Regions from separate parts of the Homo sapiens genome. Here all the other regions are linked to region 2. Evidence: fine-mapped expression QTL. A gene starts in region 2. Each other region holds a variant in brackets. All regions are shown on one strand. Distances are from middle to middle.

The links. PIP is the estimated chance that this variant, and not a neighbour inherited with it, causes the effect.
Region 1: its variant is the best candidate, but not a certain one, in a credible set for the expression of PENK in left ventricle (GTEx, PIP 0.85).
Region 3: its variant is the best candidate, but not a certain one, in a credible set for the expression of PENK in tibial artery (GTEx, PIP 0.50).

What each region holds. Positions count from the first base shown.
Region 1 is chr8:56,509,808-56,517,636 of GRCh38, forward strand. All of the region lies in intron 2 of PENK-AS1 (PENK antisense RNA 1), which reads left to right. Among named protein-coding and RNA genes, the nearest start is that of LINC00968, 46 kb to the right of the region's middle. The variant C/A (reference allele first, on the strand shown) is at 3,869.
Region 2 is chr8:56,444,183-56,452,011 of GRCh38, forward strand. PENK (proenkephalin) reads right to left here and starts at 2,459. Exons shown (of 4, transcript NM_001135690.3): 1 at 2,387-2,459; 2 at 2,244-2,299; 3 at 1,634-1,774. The coding sequence starts at 1,771. It overlaps PENK-AS1 (PENK antisense RNA 1), which reads left to right and starts at 1,625. Exons shown (of 4, transcript NR_125813.1): 1 at 1,625-2,318. RefSeq lists an enhancer at 1,230-2,121.
Region 3 is chr8:56,695,441-56,703,269 of GRCh38, forward strand. All of the region lies in intron 1 of LOC105375852 (a long non-coding RNA gene), which reads left to right. Among named protein-coding and RNA genes, the nearest start is that of LINC00968, 140 kb to the left of the region's middle. The variant T/C (reference allele first, on the strand shown) is at 4,718.

The DNA.
Region 1 (7,829 bases), 66 kb after region 2:
CCCCATCTAGATGTTGGACTTTGGGGAGGCCAGCTGACTTCTGTAGACACCTGTCCTCATTTCTGCATTGAGAAGTTGAGAATAGATCTTTCAAAGCAATCTACGGACCACCTGCCTCCCGTGACCACTATAGTCTGAGTGGCCACTCTCTCTTGCCTGAAATGTTGCAAGTTGCAAGTCCTAATTGATTTATGTAATTTGCTGCTTTGACAACCACTTCTTCCACATCTGTTCTCACATCACAGGTCAAACTTTTCCAATGGACACCTTCAGTGTCTTCCTCTGCTCTTGGAATAAAAGACAAGCCCCTTCCCCTTCCTTAGGCTCCAAACCTGTCCTAGTCTGGGTATCCTGCCTCTTCAGACCCTCTTCCCACCTCACCTCACCTGGGCACCCCCCAACTTCTAGCTCCACTAACTTCTTTCTGCCACAGTGCTATTACTGCCCCTTTGTCTGGTCAGCCCCTACTCAGCCTCCTGCCCCCAGCTCAAGTGCAATTTCCTCACAAAAGCCTCCTCAGGCCTCCCTGGACTGAGCAGGCCCCCACTCCTGACTCTCCCAGGGCAGGACCTTTCCTTCCTAGCTCATGTCAGCATTGCAGTTTTATATTAGCTCATATGCTCATTCGATTCCTCCTTGCCTCCCGCTCTGAACGTCACTCCTTGAGGACAGAAACCAGGTTTATCTTCATTCACTATGGATCCTCATGTACCTGGCATGTTGGAGGTGCTGGATAAATATTTTTTGAGTGCATACCAAAATGAATGAAATATACATGAACTATAAGGTAATTTTAAACATTTCACGTATTATGATTCTATGCTTTTTTATCCACCAACTCAGGGCTATTTAATGTGATTCTTATGTGGGACATCCCAATAAAGCTCTATTATTTCTAGACGTCTAACTTCTCAGAGTCCAATACTAGGGATTTAGTAAATTAAGTGGACACAGGTATTCTGGAATTCTTTCAAGGATGTGAATTATGAGCCAATAAGGCAAGAATCAGGATTCCAGAAGAACCCAGTGGAACTGATGATGACCAAGCCTTCTCCATGGACTTTCTTTGGGTTGAAGCTGCCCAAAATCCCTGCCAGAATGATGCTGAAGTTAGGACCACACAGAGAGCCTGGCTGTTAGTCAGCACTTGGGTTGTAGGTGACTGCAATGCCCAGTCATCTTTATCCAGTCTAGGCCATGTTAACCCTCTCTTGCTCCTTCGCTCTTCCGGACGGGTGCTGTGATTCGCCTCTGAAAAGTCATGCAACCCTCTGGTGTGCACAAGCCCTAGTCTGCTTATTAAATCGGAATTCCAGGGGCAGCGGCTTGCCTGGTGGATGCCCCTCTCCCCATCTCTCCTGGGCTTTGGCACTCATTCTGTCCCAGGAGACCTGCCTTTCAAGTCCCCAGAGTGACTCAGGGTGACTTCATACTGGGTTTCATTTTCATGTATTCAGTTCAAGTACATTCTTTTAAAAGCTCTGCTTTTCATTGACAGTAAGAAAACTGCCCTGGTTTGTAGGTCTGACACAGGGCTTGGAAACTTCACTTTTTAAAAGGATCACAGGTGACTTTGATACAGATGCTCATGGACAAAGCTTTACACTGTTCTAGAAGCAGCAGTACCCACAGCTCAGGCATTCATGTTTCCTTTGAGCCAGCCTCAGGGATGAGTGAGTGTGGTGGAGGGAGCTAATTGGTGATAAATTGGTGGAATAGGTCCCTAGCCAAGGGCAAACCCAATTTTTTTTCGTCTAATATCCAGAGACAGTTCAGCTTCACTTGTTTGTCATATAACACTGTCTCTACCCTGCCTGCTGGTTGGAGCACAGTTGAGCATGTGAGGGTGTGCGGAGCTCCAATTATGTGCACTGGATTGATGGGGACACATCAGCCTTCACAGACAGCCAGGGAGGGTGAGAGCAGGCCAGAAATGGCGCCCACGGTCACAGAAGTGTAGCAAGAGGAACAGTCAGTTTGTTAGGGAAGCAGTGAGTGAAGTGTTATGAGATATTTATGTCTAGGAAGAGTGTGCTGGTTACCAAATTAATCCAAGCGTTCTTAAATGTTTTTCTAACTATACAATTATATGTGCTTATTATAGAGAATTAAGAAATATTTCAAAATAGGAAGAATAATATAAAATTCCTCTGCAAAGCAACTTCTCAGAAATAACTAGCAAAATTTTACGTATCCAATATGAAATATACATTAAACACATATTATTACAAATATCTGTTATACTATTTATATATAAATATAGATTACATAATATTTATATGCTAAAATATGTTATGTATTTAATATTGGCAATACACAAAATATCACTATTTACATATACATGTGCACATATATATACACAGAAACACCCATAAATTTTGTTTTAAACTTGAAATAATAAAGTTTATATTTTGCTTTTTTTCACCTGACATTACATTGTGACATTTTCCCCATGAGATTTGATAGTCTTCAAATACATGTTTTTTTTTTGGTGGGGGAGGATGGAGTCTCACTCTGTCACCCAGGCTGGAGTGCAGTGGCGTGATCTGGCTTACTGCAAGCTCTGTCTCCCAGGTTCACGCCATTCTCCTGCCTCAGCCTCCTGAGTAGCTGGGACTACAGGAGCCCACCACCACGCCCGGCTAATTTTTTTTTTTTTTTTGTATTTTTAGTAGAGACGGGGTTTCACCGTGTTAGCCAGGATGGTCTCGACCTCATGATCTGCCCGCCTTGGCCTCCCAAAGTGCTGGGATTATAGGTGTGAGCCACCGCACGCGGCCAAATACATGCTTTTTAATAGCTATATGATATATGATGTCATGATAAAAATAAATTATTACTTGATTTTAGCCATTTATATTGTTTCTAAATATTCATTATTATAAAAAATGCTTCAATGAGTGATCTTGAACTTAGATTTTAGTCTGTTTCTTTGATAATATTAAATTGTCATTCCTTTAATAAGTCAAAAGCAGGGATGATTGTGTTCTAATTTAGTGTCTTGCTGAAACTGAGTCAAGAAACATTTCCAAAGTGGAATTGTGGAATAGTGGAATTGCTTTCTAAATATCTGATGTCAGAGGAAAGAAAGGAAGCTGGGAGAGCCCCCTTCCCACTGCACTGTCCCCGCCCATCACAGACAAAGGACTCTCCTCTCTCTGTCTACTGTGCATCTGCACAGCCAGTTGAGCCCTGGTTAGTTCTGGCATTTGTGGGCAGGGAAAGCACTGTAACTACTTTAGCAGCTATTTCACTAAAGCTTTTCTGTGTGGCGTTCATGCATCTCAGAGGGTGTAGCCTGGCTCACAGAGTATCTGATTCCATGTAGCACAGCTTTGCTATGCTGGAGCCAGGGTGGAGAATTGTACCACAGTGTTAAGAAGACAGCCCACAGAACCTTGGCAGGCAGAACATCATGCTTTGAAAAAGTTAAAGATTGATGATAATTAGTTAATGAGATGTCAGGCTCACTAAAGAGAGGAAATCATTAATTAGTACTTAATCTGTTTTTAGATATACTAGACTAGAGTCTTACAATTTCCAGCAGCATCAGCTTTAAACCATGACATGAATGCAAAGTGTAATTTCTACCAGCAGACTTTTTGTAATTATCTTATTAAAATATGCTTTGGTACACTGAAACAAACATTAGTTTTAGTTCAATTTTAATTGTGGGGAATGAGAATTTGGAGCACTGACTTAGAGTTTCTAAGGAAAGGGAAATTTCATAGCGATGTGTTTAGATTCACTCTCCTTCATCCACTGTAGAGGAGCTGGTTGCCCAAGCATTGCCTTTTGGCAGCTTCTCATGGGGAGGTGATGTCACATCTGCCTCTGAAGGCCCATTTGGAGGAGATCCTTGAGATGG[C/A]CTGGGATCCACCCCATGCTCACCCCAGCTCTGTACTTTTCTTCTGCCTTCATCCCTGTGGCCTCCTGCCTCCTCTCGGTCGGGTCTGTCCTTCTCCTGTGTCTCTGGGGTATCCCTTGATCCACACACACAGCCCTGGCGTGGACCCGCCCTCACTTGCACTGTGCTCTTGGGTTGTGGGGGTCACCATCAGGTGCTTCTGTCTGCTTGGGGCTGGCTCCCAGCTCTGCTCACTTCCTGTGCAAACTTGAATGATAGACTAAGATTCTCTAAGCCTCCATTTCTTCATCTACAAAATGAGGCTAATAACAGGAACAATGCCATCAGGTTTTCAGGATGAAATGAGGTGACAGACATTTGGCACACAGCCAGGATTCGTTGAGTGTTTGCTCTTAGGAATATGATCATAGTTTGAAGTCAGTCAGTCGAAAGCTCTTTAAAGTCAGAGAATTGGCTTTGAGCTTTCTATTTCATCTCTGCAGGACTCAGCATGGGGTAGAACATCTGTAGATGCTGAATACTTGTCATTTGACTCTATTTCCTAGAGTTTAATGATTTTCTATTAGCACACCCTGGCTTTTTTGACTGTGACCTGGGTGTTTCTGCCCAGGTAACAATGAGGCTGCAGCTGCTTTCTCATTTTACACATGATCAGTGGTGCATTCATAAACGTTTTCCAACCAGTTCAAAAAAAAAAAAAACAACCCACTGATTTGTGGTTTTCTTTGGTGTAAATAGTTTCATCATGGCCAACTTTGAGCTACCGTCGTGACAGGAACTGGCTCACAAAAGCCCTCAAAGTTTTTGCAGTTGACATTCTTGAGCTGCTTGACCTACATACTGCAACTGGACTCCTCTAAAAGTAGAAACCAGGGGGCTTCAGTGGCGCCTAACACTGACGTCAGAATTCACAAGGGTGAGCTGGTGTTCTGAGTGGCATTTAGCTTTCATGAGACCTTGAATCAAATCCGAATTCACATCTGACATTTATCCTGCACATCACAGGGCAGCATTGTGGACAGTGTTGTTGGTCTTCCTCACCATCCTGGGTGTCTCAATGAGAAATGTCAAAATTCATCTGCTTTACAGGTTATTTCATCGAAGGGAGAAAGAACACTTGTTTGCCATATGATGCGTAAAATGGGTCTAATTAGCCACGGATCTAATAGCAAAGCATTCTTTGAATTGAGGTTTGATCCTGCAGAATACTTTTTCTTTCTAAGCCATCGTTCATCGTTAAATGCATAAGGACGGTACAGGCCATGTCCCTTGCAGTATTCCCAAAGGCCTGCTGCATACAGCCACATGGGTCATACAGAGCACAGCTCCGGAGATGCCCCTCACGTCAGCTCCGATAAGAATGATGCCTGTGGAGCTGTGCAATGCTGCTGCTCTTTCTATTTTTACTTATATGTATTCCCTACTCAAAGAAGTTGACAACTAAATAGCTAGAAAATGAGAAATGTCAGAAGTGTCTAGCACACATTTCTAGAGCAGTTTCTCAGAAAAAGGGTCACCCCTGTTTAGCCTATGGCAGATGAATTGCCTTATCCAATACAGAAAAGACTTGAGTAGTTACCACATACAAGAACTCTGCTAGGTGCAACTATAATATTAAGATGCCTTAAGTAGGCCGGGTGTGCAGTGGCTCACACCTGTAATCCCAGCACTTTGGGAGGCCAATGCCAGTGGATCACTTGAGGTCAGGAGTTCAAGACCAGCCTAGCCAACATGGTGATACCCCGTATCTACAAAAAATACAAAAATTAGCCAGGTGTGGTGGCATGCGCTTATAATCCCAGCTACTCGGGAGGCTGAGGCAGGAGAATTGCTGGAATCCGGGAGGCAGAAGTTGCAGTGAGCAATATTTCGCCACTGAACTCCAGCCTGGGTGACAGAGAGAGGCTCTGTCTAAAAGAACAAAACAAAACAAAAGACAAACAAAAAAATATAAAATAAGATGCCCTAAGTGCCCAGCAAAAATCTGTGGCTGCCTATCACCCTGTCCATTTGTGAGTTAAATTGTACACCTCAGTGTATTCTATCGTGAACCCTTCTGGGTACAATAGAGGTAACAAAAAGGCACAGAGCACAGGCCACCCTCAAAGAGCTTCCTACCTTTTCAAGAAACCCACATGTGTGCATATGCATCCTGTGGGAATAATATAGTAAACACGCCACTCTGCAGTGACATGCCGACTTGGTTTAAAGCCCAAACATTTAAGAAGACATCTGTTTAGATGAATGTGGTCCATTTTAATATAGTTGCTCTTGGAATCTGAATAATTATTTCAATGTTGCTGCTATTGTACAAATTATATTTGCATTTTCTTTTTTGGAATTGCCTGCAGAGTCCATGACATGTCCTTGTGAATATCCACAGTTAATGCAGTTTTTTCAAGGGTAGATTTAGGGCGAATTCTTTGATAAATGTATAGGTTTATAAGCTGACTATGAAGGTACAGCAAATACTATAGGTTGGCTTATTCAACATGCATCTCAATCTCCCAGCCCCTTGTGTTCCCTTGTCTTAGACACTGGGAAGCTGAATATTCAATCTCCCAGCTTTTGTGTGTAGCTTAAGGTAGGTAGCAGGGCAGGCAGTCTTTGCCAATAATATGTACATAGAACTTCCTGGGAAAGGTTCTCTTCTCTAATTAAAAGGCAAAGCCTTGGAGAAGGAAGTTTTCGGCCATTGGCTCGTCCTCCGTGCCTGTGTATGGGATATAGGAGGAGTATCAGGTGGATTACAACCATGAGGACACTGTGAGGACAAAAGCCACTTCCTCAGGGTGCTTGGTCAGAACAATCGGAGGACCTGGGCTCTGGCAACGTCATGGAACTGCCATCCTAGTCCCAGACTGCACATCACTGGATGTCCTGCCCAATATGGTGAAACCCCATCTCTACTAAAAATACAAAAATTAGCCAGGTGTAGCCTGCAATCCCAGCTACTCGGGAGGCTGAGGCAGGAGAATCCCTTGAACCCAGGAGGCGGAGGTTGCAGTGAGCTGAGATCATGCCACTGCACTCTAGCCTGGGCAACACAGCAAGACCCTGTCTCAAAAGAGAAAAAAAAAAGAGAACAAGAGTAAGTAGGAAAAACAGTTAGAAAATTGTCCTGGTTAGAACTTAGGATTCATTTTGAGAAGTACAGGAAGATAAATATGAGCAGAAGAAAGCAGAGACAGATTATGGAGGACCATAAATGTTCATTTAGAAACGAGATCCACGGGTAGGAAACAATTGCATGTTCTGTAGAAGGCAAGAGATACGGTATGCTTTCATACGAGTTGTCCGGCACCTCTTCTACTATAAATAAAAAAGGAAATAGACTTAATCAAAACAAGCCAAGATGACTTTTTAGGGGAGTACTTTTGCTAACATGCTGTTTCTTGGATTGTAAATCCTGAACACCAGGGGCAATTCCTGTGCCTGCTTGATATACAGTTCCCTTGCTGGAAACCTCAGGTCGGTGAGGACAGTGTTTGTGGAATAAAGGGAAGAGGAATTTGTTTCTTGCCTTGATGCACTTTCAGCAACTTTGCATCCTTAGGGCTACTATTTCTTAAGATTTGACAAGGAATAGAAAGGTATATTACATCTGGGATAGGAATAGAGCATTAGAAAAGTATTTGATCAATTTAAATTATGCATGACTCTAAACAGCAGAAAATTAAGTCAGTGGTCTTGGAGGCTGGCTAGTAATGGAAACCTGCTACAGTATACTTAGTGTATAGACACAGTCTATTTCTAGTATAGTGATGACAATGTAGTCCAAAGTTTGCTGCTTGAGATGGCTTTAATGAAATAGATAGCTTGATTCTCCCTCCTCTTTCCCCTCCTCCTCCTCCTCTTCTCCTCCTCCTTCTTATTTCTTCTTTTCCTTTTCCTTATTTTGTTTGAGACCTATTTAACTTAAGCATTCATTGAAGCATCTTTTTCAGATTTTGTCAACGTC
Region 2 (7,829 bases):
GTATGAAAAAAACCCATTTGAATAGGCATGATTAAAAGTCAGTCATATTAATTCGCTAACTCACATAATTTAAGTAAATATGATACTACTTTGGGGTCAGTCTGTGTGATTAGAAAAATTAGACTAGAATCCATATAACCTTTATTCAGATGGCAGAGAAAGCTAGGGGAGGGGGCTGAGCCCCTGACATGTTGAGCAGGCAAAGCTCAAAATATGTGTGACTGGGCACAGGGAATTATGGGGTCAGAAAGTGGAGTCTTCTATGTGGCATGTTTTGGATTTTTCTTCCTCCTTCTGTGTCTAAAATTCTTTATCCACAAGATCTATCCTTATATTTGTAGCACTGGCTCAATTTTTAGGCATAGGTTAAAAGCTCATGACTACAGGAGAAAGAAGAAAGATGGGTGAAGGGGATTGTTTCTCCTATTGAAGATGAAACATTTTTCTCATAGTTTAAATATACAACCTTCCTATGTGTCTTCTCTTTAATGCCAAGTTAGCACAGGTCAAAGAAACAAACATTTAACCTGAAATATATACCACAGATATTTGGAAACTGTTCCTTGGTTTTCTCCCCATTTCAAACATCTACATAAGGTAAAATTTCCTCAATTCCAGGTGGAACCCAAAGCAGCTTGGATGAATACATTATTCTCTATGAGCTTTTTAAGTCACCATAAAATTTCAACAAATTTCAAAAGCAATGCAAAGGAATTGTCAGGGGAGCTGGTAAAAGTGAAGCTACCTGAGTCTCGAGGTTGGAGATTCAGACTCAGTAGAGCACCAGAGGTGATTCGACAGCCCATGGGGAACCATGATCAGAATGAAAGTTATTTTGTCCTCAGCTTTTTCTTTCCCCAACCCCCTGTAGTGCAGTGTATCTTTGGACTGTTGTCACCCATTGGACACTGGCCACTTCTCTTGTTCCTTTCTCATAGCCAAATTAAACTGTTGTTTTAGTTACTATTACAAAGGGCAGTTGAAACAGAAGTTGAATTCCAGCATCACTGGCTAGTGAGACAGTTTGAACTCTTTCCTGTCTACGGTTATTTCGCCTTCCTCTCCCCGTACCCCTTTTCCATCCCTTTGCTCTCTCCTATTTACAGGTGAGGGTAGGGAATGAGGGACCTGAGGTTAAGAGAGCTGGGGAACATAAATCTAAAGAAAGGCACCGAAATGTCACTAACAAAAAATTACATTATTTGTGGGAAAGATGGGAAGATGACTGCGTGTGGAGGGGCCCTTAGCTGGGATATGTTAGGAGTTGTGGTGACAGCCATCTTCCTTCTGACAGCCCAGGAGAGAACCCAGTGCTATCCGAGGTGCTGAACAGAGGACTTCTCGGGGTTCCCGAATTCCCAGGGTTAAAACAAACTTGGTTTGTGCGGCGACACCGCTACCCTTACCGGTCCCCAGATAGTCGCGGATCCCCGAAGCTAAGAGCCAGGGCAGGACTTCAGTCAGTGTTCCAGGAACAGCTGAGACACCCAGGTCACCACGGGCTCGCGCCGCTGCGGCTCCGACCCGGTGCGAACCGCCATACGCGCCGCGCGGTGGGCCGGAGGCAGTCCGCGTACTGTTGCGGAAACTCTGTCTCACAAGGTGCGCAACACTCGCCGCGCGCAACACTCACCAGGAAGTTGATGTCGGCCGGGCGCACTAGGCGGTAGCTGCACGTCGCGCAATCCTGGCTGCATTCGGCCCGCACGGTCGCCAGGAGCCCGGGGCCGAGCAACAGCAGCCAAGTGCAAAGTGTCAGGAACCGCGCCATGGACTGCGAGGAGAGAGGGACGCGTGCTTCGAGCCTGCCTGGGCGCAGAACGGGGTCCCTCGGCAGGACCCTCGCCGCGACAGCCTCAGCAGGGGATCGTCGAGCAAAAGCCCGCAGGAATGCTCCTTTCTGGGGCCCCGCCCTCCCGGCCGACAGCTTTTAGGTAGACGTGGAGGCGACTCAGATCGCCTCGCGGTTCCCGGGATGGCGCGGTCGCCCCCAACGCGAGGCTGCCTGGGGCACCCGGCTCTTTTCCTGGGCGTCCGCGGCCCAGGGCAAGATTCCGGAGAGAACGCCGCAGACCAGGGGCGAGAGAGCGGGAGCCGGGGGAGGCAGGACATTGACTGGGGTCACAAAGAAGAACCAGGGAACGCTGTTGGGGAACCCATGCAATGAAATGTGAAGGGAAAGAGGGCGGGCAGACGTCCCCAAACCCGCTCAGCAAAGACAAGCTTCGGGCAAATTCACTCACGTTGACGCTGTTCGGATGGAGCAGGCCAATTGGAAAAGCCGGGTTCAGACACGACTCTAGAGGGAAGAGAAGAAGGCAAGTGTGAGGAGGGCGGGCGTCGGGGAGAAGCGGGCCCGGGTGTGCTGGCGGACGTAGGGCCTCACCGTCGCGGTCCTCAGCGTCTCTGCGGGGTCACGGGCCAGGCTGCGGGGCTCTGAGCGCCTGCCTCGCCGTCCCGGGGCTTAACGGCTGCTGGAGCCACTTTATAATTAGCCCCAAACCGAAGGAGGCGCGCGCGCCCCAATCGCCGGCGGGCTGCAGCTGACGCAGGCCCTACGCCAGCCCCGCGCCGACGCCTTCGCGGGAGGGGTCGGTCCCCCAGCACCCGCGCGCCGCTCCCCCCGCCGAGCTCGGGTGGGGGCCACAGGGGGCGCTCGGTGGCTCCCCACACGGCCAGGTGACAAACCCAAGGCAGTTAGGAAGTTTGGGGAGAGTGAGATAGGATCAAGTTTCTCCGCATAAAGTCACTGAAATTGCACCGTGGGATGCGGGCTCCAGGGAGGGAAGCGAGGTGGGGGCGTTTGGAAGGATAGATGGACTGGCTTAGACTTCTGGAATGTGCTGGAGACCCAGCGGGCCGGTGAACCTGCCCCTTTCCCGCCTCCTCCCTGGGCCCCCTCGCGGGTCCCCGTGGGCACCAAGCACAGCCGTCCGGAATGTCGTCATTTATTGACCAACCTGTCCCCCACACTTGACTCCGAGTTCCTTACTGCAGCATCTAACAGCGTCAAGGTGCGCAGTTTAGGCGCTCAATTAATGGTTACAGGAACTGAACGATTGAAAGTTTCTGGGAATCTTAAAATCTCAGGACAGAATTTTCACCTTTCCAGTTAGAGACCCTTGGCCAAGCGTAGAAGCAGGTAAACCCTCAGGTTCCGGGACTGCGCGCTTTTCAGCCACTGTGGGAGAGGATCCGTGTTTAACCAGCTCCCCGGGGCTCCCAAGTCGAAGACCTACTGCCTTGAGAGCGCTGTCCAGGGTGTCCGGGGGTGTTGGATCAGTGAGAGGGGGGTGCCGGGGCGGGTGTAATGTCAGCGCGCCAGGAGTGTGGTGGGGAGGGAGGGATGAGGGACACCCTACCCGGGACGCCGGGGCTTGGAACCTCTTCTCCACCGGGAGGGGGCCGAGGGCACACTGTGGAGGCTGGTACTGTCCATTAAGACACGCTTTCCCGCTTCCTGGCTCTGCAAAAGATTGCTAAGCGGCAAGCTGCTTACATTGCCTGAGGCCTCAGTTTCCCTATTTGAAAAATAGGAACAGAGGTAATATGCCATTCATAAGGTTCTGGAGAGAATCAAATGAAATAGTGGACGAAATCTCTTAGCCTTGTGCCTGGCACTATAGCAAGCCCTCAAAACATCTTCTAACCATCCGTCATCCGTCCGTCCACCTTTCCATCTGTGACCATTGTCTGCTTACCTTATAGCTACCATCGATGTATCCAATCCACCTATGCATCTATGTCTCCTAGACCTAGGGGGAAACCATAAACAGTTCCTGGGAAAAGGTCCCAGAGGTTTCCAGGCCCTCTGCGCCCTCTGCAAAGGGCTGATTTCTACAGTCGCTAGGACCTGCAGCGGCGCTGCTCCCGCGGGGCTCCGGCCGCGCTGCATGTCCCATTATAGTCGCTAGAGGGCAGCGCTCTCCTGCGTAGGCTGGGCTTGCGGGGACTGGGGTCTCAGTTCTCCGCAGGCCTCAATGTGCGGGCTTGACACGCAGCCCTCGGATTAGCCCCGAAGCTGCACCCGAGCACCGCCTGCCTCCCGGCCGGGGCATCACGGTAGCAAGGTCGGGAAAGCAGAGCCCTGGAGTGGGGCTGGAGAACCCCGGACATAGCCCTAGGGAGCCAGCATTACCCTCTGAGCAGGAAAACACAATGTTTCCCGCTTTAGGTTCTTTTCATCATGGGGCCCCTTACTAGCTCCTTACTCTCTCCCCAAGGCAAAGGAGAGCTTTTGTCTTTACTTCAGATTTTTCCTTGTTGCCTGGGCTTTGGAAAGGAAGCTGACTCCACTGCAGTACTCAGTGCGAAAGTATTGCATGAACAAATTCTACCTAAAATTAAAGGAAACTTGCTATAGCTGAGCACTTGCGAACCTGGGATCACCTAAGAACTTTAAACGCATAATCAGGAGCGGGAGGCTGAGGTAGGTGTGTGTGTGTGTGTGTGTGTGTTTGTGTGTGTGTGTGTGTGTTTGGAATGACCACATCACGCGATGCTTTTTAAGGGTGCACAGCGCGCAGTAGTGGAAACAGTGCATTTCTGCACCCTGGCGACACAAAGGCTCGTTAGGATCTTGGAAAAGTAGAAGCTTAAGTTTGGGAGAGGTTTTAGGGATAATTTATTCCACCGCCCGTTCTACAGATGGTAAAAACCAAGGCTCAGAACGTCTGAGTGACCAGCCAGGGCAGTGGCAGACCAGGTTTTCCAGCCTCTGAGTTCCTTCCCGAAACCTACCTCAGGCCTAGTTTGTTTCTGTTGGAACTAGTCATGTTTGCTCTGAGTTAGGGTCTCTTGGCGCATTTGCATTTTCCCCTGAGACTCCTGAAATGTCAGGGGAGAGAGAAACAGAAAGGGAAAGAGAGGGCGCCTCCTAGGGGCAGTGCAAGAGTGTGCAGTCCCCCACGAGACCTTCCTAGATGCTTGGGGCACAGTGGTTGCTTGGTAAATGTGTGTCGACCGGCTGACTGACTGAATGAATGAAGTGATAGGAGGTCGACCTTGTTTGCCTACCCCAAATCAGTGACATCTCTTCCCATCATCCTCCCCCATCGACCTGAGAAACTAAAAGTCATTCTGGTGGCAATGAGTTGTAAGAAATTCATTTTTTCATCATCTTTTAAATATTTATCAAGAGTGAACAGACTTTGCAGTTATGATCTGGGAGAAAGCTGCTCTAGAAATCAGACTAAAAAAGGGAAGGGGCTCTGTCTTAAAGCATTCAATCCAGACATTTTTTATTTTCAGGTTAGGATCAATAACTCATCTTCTGATCCTAGGGTCCCAAGCATTTGCCCAAAGGGATTCATCCTAGAGACCAAGAAATCTGACTTTTTAACCCTGATGATGAATGGCATTTTACTCAGTTCTTAGGTGTTCTCAGAGTCTAAAAAGGTGGGATTTTACAATGTTCTTTTAGTGTCCTCTTCCATTATTTTCAGATGGAAGATGGCTAAATTGAATGACGTCTTTCTGGTACTCACTCCTCTGCTCCCCTCCCCTTCCTGTCACCCAAGCACACGTGTTTTATTACAGAAAGCCATTTCTGTCTGCCCCCCTCTCTCTAAAGTAGCAGTAGTGGAAACAAGCCCCTTCAGCACTCAGGCAATTGTGTGATGGTTCAGCATAAAAGCAACATGTTCTAACATTTCAGATGTTTGGAGTCATGCCAGAGTCAGGGGAGACATCCCCGTTTTCAGTTACAATCTAAAGTGCACAGTTTGCAAAATGTGATTCTGTGAGTTGGGCATATAACTGTGAAGTAGCACTGTTAAGGGATTCTTTTTCAGACTGGCTCAGAACACCATAACAGAGCAGCTGGAAGTGGGGTTGGCTTGAACGAGATGTTTTATGGTGTCACAAACCCCATTTTAAGGAAAGTCAGTGTTGGAACATTCTGGAAAATGTACCAGGAAATAGAATAAAACTCTAGGAAGAAAAGGTAATCTGGTACAAAGTTGCCAGATTAAATAATAGAAAGAGTTTAAATAATATAAATTAAATAATAGAATGAGTTTAAATAATAGAAAACATGTCAATGTGTCAGAGGAGGTGGGGAGAAAGGGAAGGTAAATTAAACCAAGAATATCAAACATATTGTTTATGTACTGTAAACTTAGGGAGGATTGAAACACACTTCCTAACTTTGGCCTTTTGCTCTCCAGGAGGGAAAAGATCAATCTTACTATTAAGTATAGGTAATTAGACAATGAATAAAGCAAGTCCTATTATGAAAAATTAGATTAAAATAAGATATAGCTGTGAGTCCAACCAATAGAGTATGTCTTGAGCAGCTCGACTTTTAATAATGACTTTTGAAATTGCCTTGAGAAATTTAATAGCCACGTGAGAGAACCAGTCAATGTTAAAAAATTGTGTTGCCTCAGTGAAACCCCGTCTCTAATAAAAATACAAAAAAAATGAGCTGGGTGTGGTGGCGGGTGCCTGTAGTCCTAGCTACTCAGGAGGCTGAGGCAGGAGAATGGCAGGAAGCTGGGAGGTGGAGCTTGCAGTGAGTCGAGATTGCGTCACTGCACTCCAGCTTGGGCGACAGAGCAAGACTCCATCACAAAAAAAATTGTGTCACCTCATTGGATTCAAACCTTATTCAACAACTTGACTTTGATTTGGTGTTTTGGTTGTTTCTGAAATCAAATATTAGATCCCACTTATGGGACCTGTATAGAAGGCATTCAAAAATATTCATCCACCACAGACAATTTCCACAGTTGAAGGAATGCTAGAAGAGAAGTTCTAAATAGATTTTGATCAATAGTAAGTTATTGGAATGAATGCAATGGCTGCAGGATACCAAGTTCTTAAGGGAATCCCTTTGCGTATGATCCACAGCACAGATGTTTGCACATAGTAGAGACTCAGTGAAGTTGCTTTTAAAACATGTGTTTTTGCTTATAGTTACATCTTCCATAGCTCCCAAGTGATGGTGAATGGTGGGATAGACCCAAGAGGTCAAACTGTTTTAATAAAATTATATAGGGAAAGCACTCAAATCTTTCAAAGCTATCAAATAAAAACTGAGCAAACTGAAAAACCACGACTCTTCTTAGATCTATCATAGAGGTTGGGTCACAGGGGAAACCACTGTCCCCCCAAATTGGAGAGACCAACAGGCAAACACAGGGGGTCCTGGCTTGCTGGTGCAGAAACCTCCCAGAGAATCAGTTGGGAGGTAGAAAAACCTGAACTACAGCTGACAAATTCCGGGAAACTGTGTGAACAAATCTGAGATAAAAATTCCAGGAGAACCCAGTCCACGGAGGCCTCCACACTTTCATGAGTTTTACTTACAGGTGTTCAACCAGGTTCTCACAATGAATAATGGAAAAAATTTCCCTTGTGCTTCAAGCAGTGGGAGGGAAAAAAGAGCCATTTTGAAATACACCGGAACATTGTGTTCCTAACAAGGTTTGCCCACAGGAGAACCTAGTTAACCAGAGTCTAATCTCCTGAAGTTTTATCAGAAAATAGCTGACCTGAGGGACTGGAAATACCCAACTCCAGCCCCCTCCAGCCATTGTGTTCTACTGAAGGGGAGGCTGGGGACTAAGAACATATGTAAAGTTCACAGCCCAGAGGTACAGGCTCACTAAAGACTGAGACCTACTCAGAGGACTGCAGAACACTCCCTTCCTGCTTTATCAACACATTACTAAAGGCATATTTATAACATTTCCGTTTACCCAGTACATCAAGTCTGGCTGTCAAGAAAAAATTACAAGACATACTAAAAACCAAAAAAAAAAAAAAAAAATCCCCACAGTTTGAAGAGACAGAGCAAGCATCAGAACCAGGCTCAGATATGTCAG
Region 3 (7,829 bases), 250 kb after region 2:
TACACGATATCAAGAGAAAATGGAGAGTAAATATCTGCAGTTGAGGTATCAAAGTATTGTTCACTCTAATACAAAGCTGAGAAACAGAAACTTTTAATGACCAATACAGAGATAGGAGGTGGAGACATGACATTTTGTAAGCTGGAAAATATAAAAGTATTAGGGTAAGAGAACTTCTCCACTGTCTTACATTATTATGAGTCTGCCTGTAGTGTAGCCTAAGTATGTCTTCCCAGCCACTTTCTGGGGTTCTTACCTTCTAGCCAGCTCTATCTAGGAAATTTTTCCCTCATCTTGATGGAAACCTTACTTTCCTTTTCTGGCCAAGAGATTTTATTTACAATAACATCTTATTTTCCTTCCTGGGCTTAGAGAATTGGGGTCCACATTAGTCTGCTAAGGTGAAACGGTAAAACACTACAGACTGGGTAGCTTAAACATCAAGCTATTATTTCCTCCAAGTTCTACAAGTTCTAAAGACTGGAAGTCCAAGATCAAGGTTCTGGTTGATTTGATTTCTGGTAAGGGTTGTCTTCCTGGATTGCAGATGGCCAACTTCTCATAGGCACTTGGAGAGAGAAAGCTCTCTGATATCTCTTTGTATAAAGACATTAGTCTTATGGGATTAGGGCCCCACCCTTATGGCCTCATTTAACCTTAATTACCTTCTTAGAGGTACATACGGTTGCACTAAAGATTAGGGCTTCAATGTATAAATTTTAGGGGGACACAAACATTCAGTCTATAACAGTTCTTCTGGGCCATTTGTGCTTCACCTCTCTATACTCTTGCCGAGGCAGTCAATATAGGGGCCCTGACTATATGTGAGATGGAAGAGAAAGGGAAGTCAGGCATAAGTATATCAAAAATATTATCTCACCACATTTGGAGTAGCAAAAATTTAAAATAAATTTGAATATTCAATCAGGGAGAGAATTACTACATTTTAATAAACTCATACTAGAGACTATTGTGAAGGTCTTTAAAAGCATGAAGCAGATATATGTGCATTGATCTGGAACTCATAGCAACCATATAATACAACAAGAGCAAATCACAAAATACTATGTACAGTGGAATCTCATCTGTATTAAAAATTAAATCAAAATCTTTATGTTGGTGCACAGATGTACCAGCAAAGAAAAGGTATGAATGAGAGGCACAGGCTGCCACTGGTGAAGTGGTATTGGAGATGTGCAATATACACTATTAACTTCCTTCTGAATACATTACTGCCTTTTGAATTATTATAATAAGCAGGTTGTAATTCAAATGACTGAAATTTTAAAAAATAAAAAGATGAGCAAAGGACACTGCAGTCAAGGAGCGAGAATGAGAACAGTCTGAGATTGATGCTGCATGGTCATGTGGTCTGTCCCCATGGGTGGTAATAACCAGGGTGATACATCATTCTGCAGGCTGTGGGCCTTAGGTTTTCCGTTCAGAAACTGGATTTGGTTTTTCTATCCACACAGAACTGACTGACCTCTTGGGGTCAGACTACTAACCAAGTCTCTAAAACAAGAATACATATTACTAGAATAGTAATTCTAGAATACTGATTTATTGATATCCAATGGGGGAAGATGTCTTTAATTTCTGAGACACTTATTTGCATCTGGCTTCCAAAGTAGCCTCCTGCTGATATCAGGGTACTCAAAAATGATCGTGAATACTAAAAACATATTATGGGGATTATTTCAGCCAAATCAGGGAATCATCTGATGACACTTTTTAGCTTTCTAGATGGTTGGAAGATAGCCTGGAGTTTTTGATGTTGTGTTTTGATGATGTGCTCTCTCTCTCTCTCGCTTGCTCTCTCTCTCTCTCTTTCCACTCTCCCCCTCTGTCTCTCCATCCCTCCTTCTCCTCCTCCTTTTCCTTTACTCCTATTTCCTGTTTCTCTGTTCTTTCATTTCTTCCCTCCCTCCCTTCCCTGGGACCTTGTCTCCTTATCTTATTCCAGAGAGATGTTTTGTGGCTTAAGTATAGAGTTCGCCTTTGGGGTGTTCTCAAGACCCAGAGATTCTTTACCCCCTATTTAAGATCCAGGAGAATGTCATTATAGCCTTCTACATGCTGACTTTAGTAGAAATTCAAAATACCACTTTTAAGGTTTGATAGTCTGAGAAAACCCATCTTACTGTATGAAAAATCAATTCTCCAAGTTATAAAGTAAAACTTCATAGATAATGCTTTTAAAAATAGTAGAAAAATTAAGTCAGTACAGTTTGGATAGAACTATTTGAAGACAAAAGACAAAATATTGGAGAAATATTAGTTAGATAAATCAGTGGACACATGATATAAATGCATTAATATTCCAAAGAGCAGTTTCCTTTGAAAAGCCTCCTTTCCCTCTTTCCATATTGCTAGGCTTACAGGGGAAAGGCAATAATTCATTTTTTAAAAAAACTAGGGAACACAGTGGTCTCATGTGCTATGCTATTAAATCTGAGTCACTCAACTCTCCACCACAGATATTTTTCCTTGTATGTTGATGGATTTTTTTTAAAGTACCATCAATCTGAATGACAACTTTTTCTTAAACACCTGGGCTGCTCAGCAAATACAATATGAATTTAATCCTGCTAGGAATGAAAATAGAGGTGAGCAGAGGTGCCTGTTCCCCTCTGGCAAAATTTTGACTTATGAGTTCATCCATGCTTCAAAATAACATCACAGCAGTACCTTCCATGGGTGACATGGCTCCATTAATGCTAAAGTCACACCTTGACTACAAGGAGCATGCACACCACCACCCTTTGCTGGGAAGCATCCCATCTCCCAAGTTCCATCCTTTCATGGCAGCCCCTTTTCCATCTGAGCCCATTTTTAAGATGCCACTTGTTCCCATCTTTGAGTTCCTATGGGGATCTAGATTAGAAATTTTTCACTCTTGCAGTAGATAAAGTAGCCACTAGCCATGTGTATATTAAAACTAAATTATACATTTATGTCTTCTGTCACATTAGAAACAGGTGAAATGCTCAATAGCCCCAGTAGTTAGGGCTACAGTACTAGGCAGTGCAGAGAACCTTTCTTTTGCCGCAGACAGTTCTAGGGGAAAACAGAAATGGAAGATGTCTCCTGTCTCTCCTACTGCATGACGATAGCTGCCAGGTCTGGCATTTTCACAGCTGTGTCCTTAGGGTCTAGCTCAGTGATTTTCACGTGACACATGCATAAGTCACTAAATGAATAAATGCATGAAATGAATAAAATGATCAAACGAATGAATGAATGGATATTGCCATTAATAATGGTTTTTCTTGGTCTTCCTGAAGTTTTTCATGAATTAATTCTTATTTGACCCCCATGTCTCAGCTTAAGTTATACTTCTTCAGGGAACCCCGCCCTGTCTGATCCTCCACACTGGGCTAGGTCCTTTTCCCAACATCAGTCTTATACTCTTATGGTGATACTGCCAATACTTTCGTTAACTGCCTGCCTGGCTTTTGGTTTCTCCTCCTAAATTAACAAAATTTATTGAGAGTAGGACCTTTCACTTATTTTTTTTTTAAATCCATAACACAAGCACAGTGCCTGGGATGTTAACTGAAAAACTGAAGGACTCTTTTTGCCCTTTAACATTCACTTATAGGCTACTTAGATTGAAATCTAAAAGTGCTTGACTGCCTTTAGAGCTTTTCCTATAAATACTCCCCAAGTAGATTCATATGGTTAAAGAAAAACAAAAATATGTGCATAAAACCCACTACAACCTCAGGCTGTACCTTGGCTCTCTTCAGCACACTAAGGCAACAGAACTCAATCTGCACAAAACGATGAATAGGAAGCAGTTACGGGCCATTTCCTCCCAACCTCAGTGGAAACTTCAGTTGCCTTTACTTCCTGTCATGTGCTCTCCATCCCCCAGTGTCCCATACCTACTCTGTGGCTATTTAAAAACAAAGCCAGTAAGTGAAAATACAAAAACATAGTCCGATAAGGTACTGAGTATCATCCAGGCTTATAAAGGTTATTTCCTGAATTAGTTTTCTGAGAAAAAATAAACTTACGGAAGCAATTTGCATAAAACTTTAATAGACAGTCACATTAAATCAGTGTTCTTCAAATGATAGCATAAATAGAAATCACCTGCAGCATTTGTGGAACTTCAGGTGCTTGGGTTCCTCAGTAGATGGGGCAGGGATAGGGCTGGGCATTTGAGCATCTGTCAATCAAGCTCCTGGGTGACATTAACGTAGCCTGCACATGCACTGCAAAACCTCGCTGAAACTAGGATTGATTTTCCTCCATCTTCTGTTTTACAAAAGAAAATAATTTTCACTTTATTTTTCTTATTTCATGGTTCAGTAATTATGTGCAAGAACAATTCAGATATTTAAATCACATCATATTGCCTAAAATTTTGTAGATTTCAAATTTTGACCAGGCCAGTGACTCTTTGCTGTCTGAAAGCTCTCATTTTTAATTTTTTTCTGTAATATAGCTGCACATCAAGCCTACAGTGTTATAATAGCTTAAATTTGTAATCCGTAGGCTCTTAAATAAAGTTTATCAATGTCTACTTAGTACACCATTTCATATATCAGCTGCAAAAACATCTTCAGTATTATTATTCTGTGCCAAGTCTGTAATGAATAAACAGCACTGCAAACACTTCAAACCTGTTTATTCACTTTGGAGAGCTTTTCTTTGGTTCAAGTCTCAGAGGATTTTGGCTTTGACTTTTATGAGAAAGGCCTGTATA[T/C]TCCTATGTCTCTTCCATTTCCCTGAAATTTTTCGGTTTACATTGTTCACTCTGTCTTTTAGATTGCAGCAAAAAGTCAAAAAATTGACAGAATGTCCAAAAAGAGAATCTGTGGGTGGCTGTTATCCGCAGTGACTGAGTGAGAAAATTGCCTGGGTCCTGGATCAATGAGGGGCATTTGAGAGAATGCATCAAGGGGAAGACCTTGGGTACACAGTCCCCAGGAGGCAGCTAATGTGTCACGTCCTAAAATCTAATTCATGAGAAATTATTTTTATTTCAAATGAGAAGATCAATGCATAGGGAAGAAAATGTCACATTCAGTTTATTACTTTCTCTAAAATAATAGTGTAACCTGAATCTCCATTGCTATACAGTGTAAAAGAGAAAAAAAAGAATAAATGAAATCCAACTGTGTTAGCTTCACCCATTCTAAACAAAATAAAACTGCAGTTTTAGGAACCATTTCAAGTTATTTGAAAACTTTCATTTCCTAAGTCTATGCAGTTTAAATGCAGAGAACTGCATTTGAGCTCAACGTACCTTTGAGGGAAAGAAAAACATGAATATCAAATAACACTATACAGAAAGCATTTCAAGGCAATCTCTTTGATGTAGCTGAAATATCCCAGCCTCAGTGGCCCCACTATTCTTCTAATGCAACAAGACATCAGGAATTTAATTAAAATTTAAAGATTTATAAGATCCATTCCTCTCTTGGGTAATATACACAAAGACACCATATAGGGTTTTTCTTCCTCTCTCCACTTGATTTCTACTGTGAGTTGCTTTAGTTGGGAAGTCTTTCTCTAACAAAGAAAACACTACTAGGCTGCCAGCTATCAATTCTATATCATTAACCTCTGAAGGTCACTTTTTGTAATACATGTTATAAGAGAATGATTAGGACTTCTATTGTTAACTTTGACAGAGTAGCTTGTTAGGTTATCAACATATTAAACAACCTATCAACACTGTCACCAAGAGAAACGAAAAATGCTGAACAAAATATAAATAAAACAAACAAGCAAAAAATCCAGTTGTTTAAGGCACCGGAGGACAATCAAGGACACCAGGCCTTGTAGGACCAAGTCCATAAAGTGCATTGGGTGATATTTACTATACTTTTCTATTTACTGATTCCTAAGCACACAGATCATGGTGGCTGAGCAGAAAGTGGCTCAGCATTTGATAGTCTCAGTGACCTTAGAAGAAAATAATGGGAGTTTAAAGTTGTAAAGGCAGCCAGGACTTGAGGGACCAAAATTCTGTATGAAATTGGATCCTGGAGAATTAAGTCCAACATTTTACAACTGGTTTTTCCCTTGAAGCCTTCACCAGTTCCTACACTGCATGGAATGGGAGGACAAAATTAGGTAGAGAGAGCCGTGGAGGGGCAAAGCCCAAGCAGAGCTTCAGGTCATCTCATGGGAATAAGGACACAAAAGTCTGAGTTTATAGCTTGCCAAAAAGAGAATTTCTAGTAATCACTCCAGACTTTCATTAGATACCCTTGAAAGGATAAACTCTGGGAAAACCAAAATGGACAAAATCTGACAATGGACAGAATCCATCTTGAATCATCTCAATCAATGGATCAGTGCATGCTCTACAACTCCTGACTGCCTAACAGAAGACAACTCAATCCTTTCTGTAGAAAGATCATGTCATAGAGTCCCTGAAATGTTGTATAATGCCCAACACTCAAGCAAAAATTATATGTGTCAGGAAATGTCCAAAAGACCAAAACCAAGAGCAGGAAAATCTATTAGGAATAGGCCTACATGTGATCTAGATATTAAAGTTTAGGATTCAGACCTGGCAATAGCAGTGACAAATATGTTCAAAAAATAAACTATACAATGAAGACTAGCCAGAGAACTGGGATCCATAAAAAAAGTCAAATGGTAATTATTCTAGATTGGAAAATCACATTAATTGAAATTAATAAGAGATTAATTTAAGAGGAAATTTGACTCAGCAGAAAAGGTATTTGGTGAAGCAGAAGCTAGGTCAAGAGGAAATACTCAAACTAAAGGACACATAAAAAGGGAATGAAAAATAGAGAATGTAATAGACATGTAGGACATAAGTACAAATCTAAAGTGGGTGTAACTGGAGAGGAGAGAAGGACAGAGCAAAATGAGAAGAAATACTAGATAATTCTTCCAAAATGTGAAAGATTCAAACCACTGATTCAGTAAGTTCTATAAAACGGCAATGGGATGAATAAAATAAATTCACATATAGGCATATCATGGTAAATTGCTAAAGATCAAAGAGAAAAGATTAATCTTTTCTTTTGCATGCAGAGGAAAATGATAAAACCTTCCAAGGAAGAACAATAAGATCAAGGGCTGATTTTCCCACAGAATTAAAAGAAGACAAATTACAATGGAATTATATCACTAGAAGGCTAAAATAATACAACTGTCAATCATGAATTCTTTGCTTTGTCAAAAGATCCTTAAAAATAGAGATAAAGATATTTTTGATAATTAAAACAAGGAGAAAATTCATTGTCATTAAGCCTTTAAAAGAAATATTAAAGCACATTATTTAGGCAAATGAAAGATAAGGAAACAAAGATAAGCCAATTAAAAGACCAATATTTTAAAATTGGATAATAATACAAAACCCAACTATATGATGCTTGTCACATAAATATAAAAACATAGAACAGTGGAAAGTAAAAGGATGGATAAGTCTTAAAAAATAACCGAGAGAAGGCTGTTAAAACTATATTAACAGGCAAAATTGGCTTTAATGAAAGTGATAATACATTCTATAATACATTCTATAATAATAAAAGGGTCAATATATTAGAAAGACATAACATTTCATAATTGGTAGGCTTCTTATAGCATAGGCCAAAAAATATATATAATACATATATATTTTGCATATTATAATGTATACATATACACTTATAAATATACATACTTTTATATACACACATATATATCTGCTATATATATGTGTGTATATAAAAGTATGTGTGTGTGTGTGTGTGTATGTATATATATATATATGTATATATATATATATGTGTGTATATATATATATATATATATATATATATATATCTCCAGCAGAACTAAAAGGAAAAAAA